Linked DNA regions of Homo sapiens: region 1 is linked to region 2. The links come from fine-mapping of genetic effects on gene expression. A gene starts in region 2. The other region holds a variant in brackets. All regions are shown on one strand. Distances are between the middles of the regions.

Region 1 (8,339 bases), 43 kb after region 2:
ATATCTCCCCAGAGACCATTTTTAAATTTCAGATCTTTCGCCAGTTGTAGAGACTGTTTTGGGCCCTCTTTACTTCCTCTAAATTCTGCTTAAAAATTAAACAGGTCCTTCTTTAGTTTATTTCTCTCTTCTCCATACTTTATCATATGCAGCTGAAAGAAGCCAGTTGGTACTACTTTCAGTGTTCTACCTGGAAATATCTTTAGCCAGTCAATAAGTTAATTAGGTAAATATTCTATCTTATGTAATTGTTAAATTAGGTAAATATTATTGCAGACAACAGTCTTGCCAAACATTCCACCACTGTGTAACATGAGGCACTCTCTCTCCTGCATCTAATAGCAATTTTCTCATGGTTCTTCTGGCCTTTGCTAACAACTGACTTTCCACTTTTTCAGCCTCTGCCTGCCATCAGGTCCCAAAACCAATGCTGCATATTTTAGGCTGTTTGGCACTTCCCTTAAGCAAGTCAATCAAAGCAAGTCGCATATCCAAGGAAGGGAAAATAGATTCCATCTCTTGATGGGAGGAATGGCAAATTCACATTGCAAAAGAGCATGTGGAATGGGATGACTTATAGTCATCTATAGAATAATCTATTGCACCTAGTAAGTTTAAACTTGGAAGATTTACTATAGGTGAGAAGTTAACAAGTGGTAGCCTGTGTATGTATCTGGCTCACAGATATGGTATATTTGGCTTGGATAGAGTTTTAATGAAAAAAAACCAACATAATTTATCATCAAACAATTGGGAGATTTTATCTAGAAGGTTATATATCAGGTCTCTCTTGAAAAATAGTAAGCTGTTTTTGTGTTGGGCCTTCATTTCCATATTAGCTGGAAATTGCCTGATTTACTCCCTTTCATGACCTCTTGGCTCCTATAGGTATTTGATTTTGCAGTTTTTGCTGCTGCAGATTACTAATTTATATGTTAGTTTTTTTTAAGGGAATATGGTGATGAGCAAGACAGTCATAGAGCTTACATTCAAGTATGGGAAGATGGACAATAATACTAGATAAATAATGTAATTGCACATGGAAGTGGAATAAAGCAAGAATCTGGGATAGAAAGTAACTAGTAAATAGGTAGTTGGGGTGGGGATATTTTAGATAGGGTGGTCAGGAAGCCCTCTCTGAAGACATGACGTTGAGTGGCCTTAGTGTGAGAAGGAGCCAAACATGGGGTAAGAGTGTTCCAGGCAGGCTGAGCCTCGTGGCTGATGCCTGTAATCTCAGCACGTTTGGAGGCTGAGGTGGGCAGATCACCAGGTCAGGAGATCGAGACCATCCTGGCTAACATGGTGAAACCCCATCTCTACTAAAAATACAAAAACATTGGCTGGGCATGGTGGCACGTGCCTGTAGTCCCAGCTACTCGGGAGGCTAAGCCAGGAGAATCGCTTGAACCTGGGAGGCAGAGGTTGCAGTGAGCTAAGATCGCACCACTGCACTCCAGCCTGGGTGACAGAGCGAGACTCCATCTCAAAAAAGAAAAAGAATGTTCCAGGCAGAGGAAAAAGCAAGTGAAATGACCCATGGGTGGGCCTGGGCTTGGGGTGTTTGAGGAAAGGCAAAGCCGAGAGTATAAGAGGAGAAAATGGTAGTAGAAGAGGGGCATGAACGAGGTCATGAAATATCCTGTAGGACATAAAAAAACTTGAGCTCTTATTCTGAGTAATGGGAAGTCATTGAAGGAATTGAACAGGGCTAAGGTTGTGATGTCATTTACTTTTTGCAAAGATGTCTGTAGCTGCTGTGTGGTAAATAGACTAGTGGCAAAGGGTGGAAGTAGGATGTTGTAAAGGAGGCTTGCAGTCATCTAGGGGAGGTATAAATGATGGGGCCTTGAACCAGGGCATGGTACTTTTAGGAGTGAGAAGTGGTCATACGTGGTATGTATTAGACAGGTCTTATGGATTATTGAATATGGGATATGGGAATGGGAGGAATTAAAGCCAACTTTGAGGCTTTTGGCTTGAGCAACTGAATAAATGGGTGGTCCCATGGGGAGTTCTGACAGAGGAGCAAGCTCGAAGTGGGAATTGAGAGTTTTCTCTTGACTATTATTAACTTTGTGACCCTACTGCAAAAATAAGTTTGAAAATGAAAACTCCTAAAGTGAAATTGTTTTTATCTTACAGCTCTTTATATGTGTTTTTTTCTTCTTTTCCTCTTCATTAGAAGACTTTGCCATTACTTGGATGGCATACCAGCTGCAATGGAGGAAGTATACAGATGTATATTGGAGGATGTATTTATATTTTAATGTGTAGCTATCTGCTGTCAAGAATTAGGCAAGGAGACTAGTCACTCACACCTGTAATCCCAGCACATTGGGAGGCTGAAGCGGAAGGATTGCTTTAGGCCAGGGATTCGAGACCAGCCTGGCCAACATAGTGAGCTCTTGTCTCTACAAAAAATTTAAGAATTGGCCAGGTGTGGTGGCTCACACCTGTAATCCCAGCACTTTGGGAGGCCGAGATGGGTGGATCACTTGAGGCCAGGAGTTAGAGACCAGCCTGGCCAACATGGTGAAACCCCATCTCTACTAAAAATACAAAAGTACTAGCTGGGAATGGTGTCAGGTGCCTGTAATCCCAGCTACTTGGGAGGCTGAGGCAGGAGAATTGCTTGAACCCGGGAGGCAGAGGTTGCAGTGAGCCGAGACCACACCATTGCACTCCAGCCTGGGCAACAAGAAAAAAAAAATTAAGAATTCGCCTGCCATGGTGGTGTGCTATTTTGAGTAATGGGAAGTCACTGAAGGAATTGAACAGGGGTAGTGATGTGATGTCATTTACTTTTTGCAAAGATGCCCCTGGTTGCTGTGCCGTGAATAGACTAGTGGCCACAGGTGGAAGCAGAATGGTCATTTAAAATTTTCTATTTATTCCAATTCAGTGTGGTCATAAAGGATCAAGTGTAATTTATTATTCACATTTTATTGGTATGGAGAATTAATTCATTTTTACTATTAAAAAAAGGTGGCATGTTAGTAATCAGAATGTTCTAGGAGAACCTTCCAGAGGTTTGCAACTCTTAGAATTGAAATCACTATTTAGCTAAGACCAGAATCGTAACATAAGGCAAGATTGAATAAGGTGAATGGATTTGATGAATTAAAGTGCTACTTGTAAAGGATAGTAAATTCACTTTTGCATTTTAGATAGTAGCTTTTATTGTAAATTTGGATGCAAAATGAGATAATAGCGTTTTCACCCCTTTTCAAGAGCCATTTGGAGATAGCATTTTGACTAGATCTGTCATTCAATTCAGCTTAGAAATAATTTATAATTTTATTTTTAAATTCCTATTTTAGGATATTATCATATTATCATGAGATAATGATAATACCACTCTAATTTTATTATAATTGGGTTGGGAGGAAATAGTCTTTTGTAAAAGGTTAGTTAGTGGCATATTGCCATTAGCATTTATTTTACCTTTTTTAGAAAATGAAAATCATTACACTTAAATTCAATGTATATTATATAGAGAACATAACTGATTTATAACCATGTAAAATATCTTGTCTTACTAACAAAACGTTCAGTTTTTCCTTCTTTGTGAAACCTTGAGTCAAAATGTACTAGTGAGGATGTTTATATTCCAGTGGTGTAGCTGAACCAGACAGGTCTGCAGCGCAGTGGTTTATTTTTAGACCTGCGTTGCCATTTTTATCCTGCAAAAATATTCATCAGTGTCTTGCTGACAGGCCATCAGTTTCATAAATGTGTCACATAGACCAGATTTTGTTCTTTGTCTCATTTTCCCTCCAACTCTTCTTTTCCTTTTGATTTGTTCATACAACTGTTTGGAGGAGGAGAATTTTTTTTTTTAATTTCAATTCATGTATTAGATGCTTCAATTCTAAGATCTAACAGATTTTCAGATCACCCAGTTCATTCATCTATCTGCATCTGCTTACACATCTCTACTTATTGTCTGATATGAGAAGCTGTTATAGATCACTAAGCTGAAGGCAAGGAAAAGAGAATTGCATGCATTGGGGATTCTCTTCATGGGTCCAGTCAGTTTTTGACTGCCTTCTCCATATATGTTTTTATATATTTATGTGTATGCTCTGTGTGTGTGTGTGTGTGTGTGTGTGTGTGTGTGTGTGTGTTTTCGTTTATTTACTTGTCTTACCCAACAAGGGACTGGCATAAAATATTTTGCATAAAAAAAATAGCTGCCTAAGGGCCTAGGGGTTACCATATGTGGCAGAAAGCCATGTATTGAAAATAAATCCATCATTATCTTTAAATACATAGAGCACCAATTATTTAATTTGTTAGGAGACTGTTTTAACCTGTTTGGGCTGCTAAAACAAAATACCATAAACCAAGTGGCTTACGAACAACAGAAATTTATTTCTCACAGTTTTGAAGACTGTGAAGTCCAAGATCAAGGTCCTGGAAGATTTGGTATATGGTGAGGGACTGTTTCCTGGTTCACAGATGGTACTTTCTCACTGTGTCCTCTCATGGCAGAGGGGGCAAATGAGCTCTCTCAGACCTCCAAAAGAGGACTGATCCCATTCATGAGGGCTCTGTCCTCGTGATCCAACCATCCACAAATGCCCCCTGCTAGTACCATCACCTTGTGGGTTAGGGTTTCGACT[A/G]TGAATTTTGGGGGAACACAAACATTCAGACCGTAACAGAGATGATGTTTTGATTCCAGATGCCTGAGTGACAAATATCACCAAAACAGAAGGAAAAATTCCTGCAATCAAGAGAAACTAGGGGCACATACTTGAGAATATAGTAATTTTTTAACAGTGTATATTCATGTCTCATTTTTATAAAAACTCAGATTCCCAGAGCAGGATTGGTATTCACTTATCTCTGTAACAAATATTTACTGAGTAGCTACTTGAGGGCCCAATATATTAATTGCTTTAGTGGCTACCATGGCTTGGAGAACAGGATTTCTGACTTGTGGAGCTTATAGTTATTTTAAGAGGAAAATACTTCTATGTATATTTCACAGACATGGCAGTACAGCATACTAGGTAAGAGTATAGGCACTGGAGCCAGAAATTTGCATTTATAGTTTGTGCCAGTCATTTCCTAGTTTTGTTACCTTGAGCAAACTGTTCAGCTTTTCTGAGCCTCAGTTTCTTCATCTCTAAAATTGGTATGTACTTCAGAAATTATTGCAAAGGTTAAAAAAGATGATGCTTGTTTAGCAATGTGCTAAAAATACTGAACATCATGCCTAGCACATAGTAAGCACATAATAAATGCTGGTTAATTCATAATAACAGTAATAACAATGATGGGGATAACAACAAATATTCTATGCATATTCTGTAATGCTTTAACATCAGGAATGTCTTCAGCTGTAAGTAACAGAATACACAACTATGGTGGCTTAAACAGATAAGGATTTATTAATCTAACAAGTCTGACATAGGCCAGATTGAATATTAATTATTCAACAATTTTTATCAATAATCTATATGCCAGCTACTATTCTAGGCACAAGGATTCATCCATTAACAAAATGCAGTTATTCCTGTCCTCATGAAGCTTACATTCTAATTGGGGAGAGAGACAAAAATAAACAAAACAATGTAATATAAAAATGGTAAGTTATTACTATGTTAGAAGGTGGGCTTCATAGAAAGCTTTGTGAAGGAGGGCCCATTTATGTTAGGCCATAAGGGAACAACAGAGTTTGAATAAATGAGGCTAGGTGAGAGAAAGACACAACAGAGGAACAGATATGAGAAAAATGGAGGAGCCATTTTGAGCCATCTCAAAATGGAAGTTTTGGCAACAGTGCTTTGTTAATCATCAAGTAATCAGGAGCCATGAACGCAAGATTTTTCTCAGATTTCTAAAGTAAAAGATTTCATGTTGTTATTTTCACTTTATGTAACAGTTAACAATCAAATAATAATAGTGATAGTAATATGTAGTGCTTACAAATCAAACGTTCTACTTAATACTAATGATAATAAAAGCATATGGCTGACACTTACGTAATGCTAATTAGGTATCACACTAGTCTAAGGATTTGGTATTCATATCCTAATCTCTGTGTTAAGTACTAATAGTATTCCCATTTTACAGATAAGTAAAGTTAGGTAGTTTGGTAACTTGGCCCAGGTTTATTTGCCCTTAGTGTCTCTAAGGGCGATAAGAAAAGAGATAACTGGAGAGATAGCCTCTCATTCCATAATCCAGGGGATAGAGTGGGTGAGGAAATGTTCAGGGAATATAAGTAGGTTTAACCCCTAAAGCCCGAGCAAAGGAAGAAAGGAGAAATTGAGGGCGTTAGTAGGGCTTGAGATGGCTCATCTAAACAGTTACCCACAATTTCCACAACTCTGGCAGAAATTTACCATTAGATGAGATTAGGTCCAGAGCTTTATCATATTTCAGAGACAGGCTTTCCAATGCTAAGCATCACACATATACCTTACCCAGCAGGGACCATTAGAATCCTTTTCTCATAGGGAGAGTGTCTTTTGTTGTTTGTTTCTTCACTTGGTTATCTCTTAAATGAAAGAAGAATTTTCCAATTTCAACATGAGCTTTCAAATGGACCAAATTCTCAAGCATATTTAGGTTGTGTCTAAATAGTTCTTATAGAACAAATATTATGATATGTGCTGCCTGTTAAAATTTCTGTCTGTATTCATGTACACATTCTATGTCTAATTAGAAGCTGCCAGCCTTGTCAAAATACAAGTATGGTCCACTGTTAAAACCTGATGTAAGAAAATATAAATGTATAAAAATAGTTAAAGTTGGGAGGTGGGGGGCCATGGAGAGTACTTGCATTCTAAAAAAATTTTTAAGGCTTCCATTAATTGGGAAAGTTTGCTTTACATAATAATTCAAAGAATAGATTTTATTTATGTAGTATAAATGTGAGACCACAGTTATTACATAAAGGGTGAACTTACTTAAATATACTTTATATTAAGGATTCAGTCATGGTACAATGCCATGCTCATTTTCAGTGAACAAGACAACTGTATACTCAGATAGCATATGGTAGAAAGAACTGAGGCATCACAGGCCAAGAGGCCCCCTGAAGCTGAATGTGGTCTTGCTGGTGCTGTTAGACTGAGTAGCCCTTGTCGGAAGAAATGGTAGATTCCATCAGAAAATGTTCAATGTAAAATATTACAGCAGTCCTTGTGATTTTCAGTAGGTGTTTCCCAAGCTACTCTTACGTTATTGGGATCAGCTAACTAACCGAAGGTGGCTGTGTTCTATTTAAATAAAATCTTGAGTTTAGAAGGTTTCAGGGGAGTCCCAGTTTAGAGGGAACTTTGTGTGAACTTTGATTCTGTTTGAATCTTGATCATGCTAGAGAAATAACTCATGAATATAAGGCTTTTTTTTTTTTCGATAGGGAGTCTTGCTATATTGCCCAGGCTGGTCTTGAATTCCTGGTCTCAACTGATTTTCCTGCCTCAGCCTCCTGAGTAGCTGGGATTACAGGCACACACCACCCTACCTGGCTTATAAGGCATTTTGTTGATATAAATTCCCATCATAGTACAAACCACCATCTCTTAATGCTGAGTTTTACAACTCCTTCTCCAAGTATTTGGTGTTATGGTAAAACAGTAGGAAAAAAACACAACAATTCACCCTCTTTCTACCCTTTAATCCATTTTTGTTTTTAATCACACCTTTTTTCCTCCACTTTGCCAGTGTGCTTCTTGATCTCAGGTTGGGAGAGATGAACTATGGCAGTAATGTATAGTGGGCAGTGGACTCCCCTTTCTCCAGAGATGGTAGAGTAGGTTTGGTGCTTTTTTGTTTGTTTCATTTCTGGAAAACTTGAGTTTATGTGTTTTTCTGTCTGAGGCTTTAAATACAAACTGAATTAAGCAGACATCTCAATTGTGGCAGTAACCACATGGGGGCTTGCATAGTGTGATTCTGTTTTTTTTTTGTTTGTTTTTTGTTTTTTTGTTTTTTGAGACCGAATCTTGCTCTGTCACTCAGGCTGGAGTGCAGTGGCACAATCTCCACTCACTGCAACCTCCGCTTCCTGGGTTCAAGTGATTCTCCTGCCTCACCCTCCCAAGTAGCTGGGATTACAGGTGCCTGCAACCACGCCCAGCTAATTTTTGTATTTTTAGTAGAGATGGGGTTTCACCATGTTGGCCGGGCTGGTCATGAACTCCTGACCTCAGGTGATCTGCCCACCTTGGCCTCCCAAAGTGCTGGGATTATAGGCATAAGCCATTGCACCTGGCCCAATTCTGTTTAACTAATATACAGAATATAATTTTATTTGAATTTTAAACTATAAAAACATTACACAAGAAATATATTTACTTATAGAAAAATTAGAAAATCCA
Region 2 (8,339 bases):
TATCTCCTAATGCTATTCCTCCCCACCCCCCCACCACCCCATGACAGGCCCCAGTGTGTGATGTTCCCTTTCCTGTGTCCAAGTGTTCTCATTGTTCAATTCCCACCTATGAGTGAGAACATGTGGTGTTGGGTTTTTGTCCTTGCGATAGTTTGCTGAGAATGATGGTTTCCAGCTTCATCCATGTCCCTACAAAGGACATGAACTCATCCTTTTATATGGCTGTATAGTATTCCATGGTGTATATGTGCCACTTTTTGTTAATCCAGTCTATCATTGTTGGACATTCGGGTTGGTTCCAAATGTGAATAGTGCTGCAATAAACATACGCGTGCATGTGTCTTTATAGCAGCATGATTTATAATCCTTTGGGTATATACCCAGTAATGGGAAGGTTGGGTCAAATGGTATTTCTGGTTCTAGATCCTTGAGGAATCACCACACTGTCTTTCACAATGGTTGAACTAGTTTACAGTCCCACCAACAGTGTAAAAGTGTTCTTATTTCTCCACATCCTCTCCAGAACCTGTTGTTGCCTGACTTTTTAATGATTGCCATTCTAACTGGTATGAGATGGTATCTCATTGTGGTTTTGATTTGCGTTTCTCTGATGGCCAGTGATGATGAGCATTTTTTCATGTGTCTGTTGCCTGCATAAATGTCTTCTTTTGAGAAGTATCTGTTCATATCTTTTGCCCACTTGTTGATGGGGTTGTTTGTTTTTTTCTTGTAAATTTGTTTGAGTTCTTTGTAGATTCTGGATATTAGCCCTTTGTAAGATGAGTAGATTGCAAAAATTTTCTCCCATTCTGTAGGTTGCCTGTTCACTCTGATGGTAGTTTCTTTTGCTGTGCAGAAGCTCTTTAGTTTAATTAGATCCCATTTGTCAATTTTGGCTTTTGTTGCCATTGCTTTTGGTGCTTTAGACATGAAGTCCTTGCCCATGCCTATGTCCTGAATGGTATTGCCTAGGTTTTCTTCTAGGGTTTTTTATAGTTTTAGGTCTAACATGTAAGTCTTTAATCCATCTTGAATTAATTTTTGTATAAGGTGTAAGGAAGGGATCCAGTTTCAGCTTCCTACATATGGCTAGCCAGTTTTCCCAGCACCATTTATTAAATAGGAAATCCTTTCCCCATTTCTTGTTTTTGCCAGGTTCATCAAAGATCAGATAGTTGTAGATGTGTGGTGTTATTTCTGAGGGCTCTGTTCTGTTCCATTGGTTTATATCTCTGTTTTGGTGCCAGTACCATGCTGTTTTGATTACTGTAGCCTTGTAGTATAGTTTGAAGTCAGGTAGTGTGATGCCTCCAGCTTTGTTCTTTTGGCTTAGGATTGACTTGGCAATGCGGGCTCTTTTTTGGTTCCATATGAACTTTAAAGTAGTTGTTTCCAATTCTGTGAAGAAAGTCATTGGTAGCTTGATGGGGATGGCATTGAATCTATACATTACCTTGGGCAGTATGGCCATTTTCACGATATTGATTCTTCCTATCCATGAGCATGGAACGTTCTTCCATTTGTTTGTGTCCTCTTTTATTTCGTTGAGCAGTGGTTTGTAGTTCTCCTTGAAGAGGTCCTTCACATCCCTTGTAAGTTGGATTCCTAGGTATTTTATTTTCTTTGAAGCAATTGTGAAGGGGAGTTCAGTCATGATTTGGCTCTCTGTTTGTCTGTTATTGGTGTATAAGAATGCCTGTGATTTTTGCACATTGAGTTACAAGACAGGGATGCCCTCTCTCACCACTCCTATTCAACATAGTGTTGGAAGTTCTGGCCAGGGCAATCAGGCAGGAGAAAGAAATAAAGAGTATTCAGTTAGGAAAAGAGGCAGTCAAATTGTCCCTGTTTGCAGATGACATAATTGTATATTTAGAAAACCCCATCGTCTCAGCCCAAAATCTCCTTAAGTTTTACACAATTTTTTAAACTTACCTTGTGATCTTTCTCCTCTGCAACTTTGCTAACGTAGTTCCCATGCCTCTATCTGGACTTCACACTTCTGTGCCCCCTGGAAATACCACTCCCCCACTCCCCAACCAAAAAAGGGAAATTTAAAAAAGAAAGTAAAATTTTCTATCCCCCTTTGAAGACAAATTAAAAGATATAGTCTCCTTCCAAAACTAATTGTTCAGCAAGCTGTGTTCCTATATTTTTCATTCACCATACAGCTCTGATGCCATCGTCTAACAGTTATTAGACTCCATCAGGTTATTTGCCTTGAACCCCAAATCGTTGGGAACTAAGTGATGTTTAGTGCTCAGCTGGGAGGGAGGTCTGGCATTTAAGGGCTCTCTATGAGTGAGTGTAACCCGGGCGAATGCCTGCAGCGAGGAAGGCACAGACACAGAAGACTGCAAGCCTTTATCTGGAAAAGTTTATGGCAACAATGACAGCACGCTTAACAATGATATATTTATTATATAATTATATCATATATGTAAAATATATATTTATTTAATAAAGAGTTGAAAATAAAACTGTGGCTCCACACCTATTTCTTTTCTTTTTTTTTTTGTTTTTGTTTTGGGATGGAGTCTCACTCCGTCGCTCAGGCTGGAATGCAGTGGCGCGATCTCGGCTCACTGCAACCTCTGCCTCCCGGGTTCGTGATTCTCCTGCCTCAGCCTCCCGAGTAGCTGAGATTACAGGCGCACGCCACCACGCCCGGCTAATTTTTGTATTTTTAGTAGAGACGGGGTTCGGATGTTGGCCAGGCTGGTCTCGGACTCCTAAGCTCAAGCGATTCGCCCGCCTCGGCCTCCCAAAGTGCTGGGATTACAGGTGTTAGCCACCGCGCCCTGCCTACGCCCACTTCTTACTATAATCTTTCCATTCACTAGCGGCTTCTCTGATCCCATTTCCTCTTCGAACCTGAGCTCAAACCAGCCTGGGTCTGACCGGCCAATCCGAGCGCAGTCTTCCGCAGTCGCGAGTACGGCTGCAGCCAATGAGAGACCGGGGCGCCTCGGTGGGGTGAGACAGGGCGCTCACTGGCGGAACCCCGGGGGACGCGGTGATGGGAGGAGTGTGGGAGGGGCAGTGGAACTGGAGTCAGCTAATGGCTGACGCACTACGCGCAGAGGGAAAGACGGGTCACCAATAGCGACACGGATATGGCCCCGCGGGCGGGGTTTAGGCCCAAAGTGGTGTCGGAGCAGCGCCTATTAGTGTCATCCTCACCGTCACGGCCGGCGCCTCCTCCTGGATTCATTCACTCGCTCTTTTCATTCACGAAGGTAGTGAGGCCTAGTGGAAAGCCATGGAGAGCGCTCTCCCCGCCGCCGGCTTCCTGTACTGGGTCGGCGCGGGCACCGTGGCCTACCTAGCCCTGCGTATTTCGTACTCGCTCTTCACGGCCCTCCGGGTCTGGGGAGTGGGGAATGAGGCGGGGGTCGGCCCGGGGCTCGGAGAATGGGCAGGTGAGTCGGATGCAGCGCCGCGTCCTCGCTCCCGCGGCGGCCCGGACCAGGCCTGGGCCGTGATGACTAGTTCTGGGGTCTGCTCCTGGCCTTCCCCTCCCCAGCTCTCCTCTTTCTCAGGCTCCTGTGCCCCGCGGGCCCCTCCTGGCTCCCTTGGCTGTCTTCTGCTTGCTTAGACTACTTGCAGAGTTTTAAGGTACGAAATACACTGCTCGCTCAATCCTGGGAATCTAAGCTCAGCTTAGGGTGTAGGAGAAAACTGCCTTAAGTCTCTGGGGCTTGTGCCCTTTAAGCCATTCCGTGTTCATGGAGCCAGTCAGTCGCCCTGCTGCCTCCTCAGTCACACGCTGTCCTCCTTGGTTCGCCCCTTGTAAGTGTTTTTAAAATAAAGTTTTTCGCTCGGTTTGAATATTGGCCCTGTGCTAAGGATGCAGAGCATTCTGTTAACATGTTTGGGCAGAGGATGGAAAGGGGTGTAGGGACACAATTTCAGAAGGCTTTTTGCACTGCGGAATCGTACCTCCCCAGTTACGATTAAGATAGTAATCGTATCTGGATTTGGCCTATTTCATACAATTACAAAGCCCCTTTAAAAGGAATTCTCGCTAAACTGTTCTGGAGTCCTAACGAGTAGCAAGAACTATTGCTTCTGTAAAATGATAACTCATCATGTTAAAATCAGATTTTTTTTTTTTTTTCACAAGGACGTTTGTAGGAAAAAGTATACCCGTAAAGAGTGAACCAAACACATGGAACTTGTAGTCGGAGGATTTTTAAAATGGAGGACGAAGGTCAGGTTGAGGAAATAGGGAAAATTATCTGCAGGGAAGTTTTGCTCCCCCCCCCCTTTTTTTTTTCTTTTTCAACCTATTTTGTTTCCTTCTTTGCTTTATTTTTCGTCTCTTGGCCTTTTTTCCCTTTAAACCGAGTGATTACTTATGATATGCTTGTGGTCCTACCCTGAGATGATTATTTATTTTGATGTTTTATAATCGAATGTGCACTTCCTAAGCATTTTATTGAATTTTGGGGTGGTTAGGCATTGCCTGCAGACTGGGCTCAGGTAAGATACACTAATAATGTTACTCCATGTTCTTTGTTTATTTAGAAACATTTAAACAACCTAGTAGGAAAGACATATGTTAACCTTTTGGGTTTATGTTAACATTAAGAGAAAACATCTTAGCAGTGGATATGTATGTGAAATCTTTGGACGATGTGGAGCAACATTATAATTCTGTTTCACAGTCACCTGTTTCTCTGAAAAAGGAAGTGAAATGTTCAGCTGGGTGTGATGGCTCACGCCTGTAATCCCAGCATTTTGGGAGGCCGAGGCGAGTGGATCACAAGGTCAGGAGTTTGAGACCAGCCTGACCAACACGGTGAAACCCCGTCTGTACTAAAAATACAAAAATTAGCTGGGCGTGGTGGCGCGCCCCTGTAGTCCCAGAGGCTGAGGCAAGAGAATCGCTTGAACCCAGGAGGCGGAGTTTGCAGTGAGCCGAGATCATGCCACTGCACTCCATCCAGCCTGGGTGACAGAGCGAGACTCATCTCAAAAAAAAAAAAAAAAAAAAAACAGAAAGTGAAGTATTCAACTTGGTTATAATTAAGATTATGATTTCCCAATTGACTTGCCCACATTCTTCATTGTTAGTTTTGGAAAACCTGTTTGAAGACTTTTGACTACAAAAGACTACAAGATTTTTATACAAGATAAAAATTAGGGAATTGTATCAAGATAAAATTTGTAATTGGTAAGCAAAGACTAATGTTAATAACTTGTTGTTTTCTTTTCTTTTCTTTTTTTTTTTGAGACAGGGTCTCACTTTGTCACCCAGGCTGGAGGGCAGTGGTGTGGTGGTGTGATCATAGCCAACTGCAGCCTCGAACTCTTGGGTTCAAGTGATCCTCCCATGTGAGCCTCCTGAGTAGCTGGGACTACAGGTGTGCATCACCACACCAGCTCATTTTTTTTGTTTTTTGTAGAGACAAGGCCTCACTCTGTTTCAGAGGCTGGTCTGGAAGACCTGAGATCAAGCAATCCTCCTGCTTCAGCCTCCCAAAGTGCTGGGATTACATGTGTGAGCCACCATGCCTGGATGTGTTTTTTTTTGTTTTTTTTTTTTTTTCTCTTTAAAATTGACCATATTGGTTGATTATTCAAATGATAAGTCCAAGTCATCTACATATGAGTGTACAGTAAAAGGCAAGTGATGTAACACCATAAGTAACATTTGTGTTGAAAAGATTTGGCCCCAGAGGAAGGATAATTGATAAATTAAGGGAAGTATTTGTGTAAGATTTAGATATGAAATTTGAACTGGAACACTGGAACAGCAGAGGATCATAGTATCATAATTGAAGTGAAATGCTGACAGGTTCAATTTACCCTGGGTTTTGGATTTTTTTTTTTTAAATGCTTAAGCAGAAGAAGTGATCTTAAAAGAAAATACTCCCTTTATCTTCAAATTCTGGGACTCTTCAAAAACAAAATTAAGAGCAGCTCATCTTAAACAGGTTCTTCACATGAGTTGGAGGGGTGAACTGAAATAATTTGAAAAACAAACTAGCAGAGATGACACTTGAATAATTAGAGTTGTGATTAAAAATATTGTTCCACCAAAGTTATGATTTTAGAATTGTTGTATGTAAATAGTACTAGTAAGTTTTTTCCCTACGAAATTACTATCTTAATCTCAAGAGTCTCTGTTCTTATGCAGCCTTTGAATCTACTTTCTAGTACTAATATTTAATATTTTCCTCTTTAAAACCAATTATATATTTTAAGTATTTTATTAGTATATGTTGAATTGATACTATATTTTTATTCTTGTTATTCTTAGTCTCTTCATGTGAGTATCTTCATGTGAGTATGTTTAATCTGTCTGCCTCAGATTTTAGGATCTGAGGGGCAGAAAGCGTGGATTCTCACTTTTTGTCTTTTCTCACAAATTGGCTCTTCTAAATTTAAGAACAAAAACTTTGAAAAACTTGAAATACAGGTATGCTTCACAATCAGTAAAATATTCTAGATAACAGTTTCCTTAGTGTTGTTAGGCTTTCAAGACTGTCCATTACTTGGCTGGCCCACACTCTAATTTATCTCCATCTCCTGGTCAAGAGCTGGGCCATCTCTTTCTCCTAGTTCTCACCAGTAACATTCCCACTCAGGTGAATCCCCTGTGTTCCCTATACCCCTAGAAGGTGGGTTTAGCCAATTTAGTAAGTAAGACTTCTTTGTCATTGTTACCCGAATACTTCCTGTATTTCTTAGGAGAACAAAAGGAGATCCTGTGAATGTGGAGTTTCAGGTGTTTGAAGGTCAGTGTAGCAAGTAATCAAAAAAAGATTGATAACAAAGGTGGTCAGTTTGTATTAAATAAAGGAAAGAACAGTCACTGCTATAGAGCAATAAAAAATGTGATCTGTAGAATGTGGTTTGACCATAAATACATTTTGCAAGTATTTGAGTAGTTTCCATTGCTGGAGTTCATCTAAAATGATTGCTATTGAAATAAAGTGGAGATGATAGATGCAAAGGCAAGGTAAGTAGACTTCCAATGTCAAGATATTTTATAACTTTAAACATAAGACAGCACTCTGAGCACTTATTTTTAGTTTTTAATGAAGAGGATATTGTTACACGCAGTGAAGAATAAATGATCCACTAATCAGTTAGTGAGTTAGATTTTTTAAAACAACTTTAGTGGGATATAATTAATATACCATACAATTTGCCCATTTAAAGTGTACAATTCAAGGTTTTTACTTATGTTCACAGGGTTGTGCAACCATCATCAAATCTAATTTCAGAACATTTTCATCTTCCTTAAAAGAAATGCTGTACCCATTAGGCCCTTCACTCCCTGACCCCCACCCGCTCCAGCCCTAGTCAACTACCAATCTACTTTCTGTCTACGTAGGTTTGCCTGTTCTGGATATTTCATATAAATGGAATCATACAATAGGTGTTCTTTTTTGTTAGTGGCTCTTTGATTTTTGCATAATGTTTTCAAGTTTCATCTATGAAATCTGTACTTCATTTTGTTTGTATTGCTGAATAATATTCTGTTTTGTGGAGTGAGGTCAGATTTCACAAAAAAAGTCTTCAACCCTTTGTTCTACCCTCTGGATGTTTACATTAGCAAATCTCTAAGATGTAGCTTCTGGTTGCTGATGGAACTCGTTTGGCTTTGCAGTATTCCAAGGTTCTCCTAATTCAGTAGATAGTGAGGACTTAAAAATGGCATGGAATGGTGTGGTTCTCCTCTGGAAAAACCATTCATGAAAACATGCATCAAAGGATTCTCAAAATCACAGGTATAATCACAATTTCTGTTTTCACATTGGTTAACTGCACAGGGTTAACCTCAAATGACTGAAGAATACTTGTGTAACTAGAGCTTATTAATAGTAGGTGTCTTTCTTTAACAAGAGTTTGTGATATCACATGATTTGAAGAATTATATATGAAATGTTAGTTATTTAAATTGACAACCCAGAAGAAATATTAATAACTATCATTTATTGAATGGGTGCTTGAAATGTGCCAGGAACTTGAGATTATTTTTAACCTCTTTGAGCTGTGCTCCGTTGTCCCCAGTGGACAGAGGAAGAATCAGAGGGTTTAGTAAATTGCTTTCATTATCTATGGTTTCATAGCTATTAAATTGCAGAGTCAGGATTTGAAACCAAGTCATCCGTTCTGCAACATTCGTACACTGTATGTTGGTGATGGGCCTACAGACTGGATGAGTACTCGGGAGTAGATTTCTTTATACCTACAAACTTTATTAAAAGCTTTTTGATTGAAGACACACTTTCACTTTTTAAAATTTAAATTTTTGTTTTATTTTTAAGAACAATCTCAGACCAAAAAAAGGCACAGTTTCAAATTTGCACATTCATGATTTT

What was found.
Region 1: its variant is fine-mapped to the expression of HSD17B12 in prefrontal cortex (BrainSeq, PIP 0.95).

What each region holds. Positions count from the first base shown.
Region 1 is chr11:43,720,131-43,728,469 of GRCh38, forward strand. All of the region lies in intron 1 of HSD17B12 (hydroxysteroid 17-beta dehydrogenase 12), which reads left to right. Among named protein-coding and RNA genes, the nearest start is that of HSD17B12, 44 kb to the left of the region's middle. The variant A/G (reference allele first, on the strand shown) is at 4,629.
Region 2 is chr11:43,677,566-43,685,904 of GRCh38, forward strand. It overlaps HSD17B12 (hydroxysteroid 17-beta dehydrogenase 12), which reads left to right and starts at 3,173. Exons shown (of 11, transcript NM_016142.3): 1 at 3,173-3,422. The coding sequence starts at 3,263. RefSeq lists enhancers at 2,768-2,817, 3,028-3,593, 3,668-3,717, 3,868-3,927.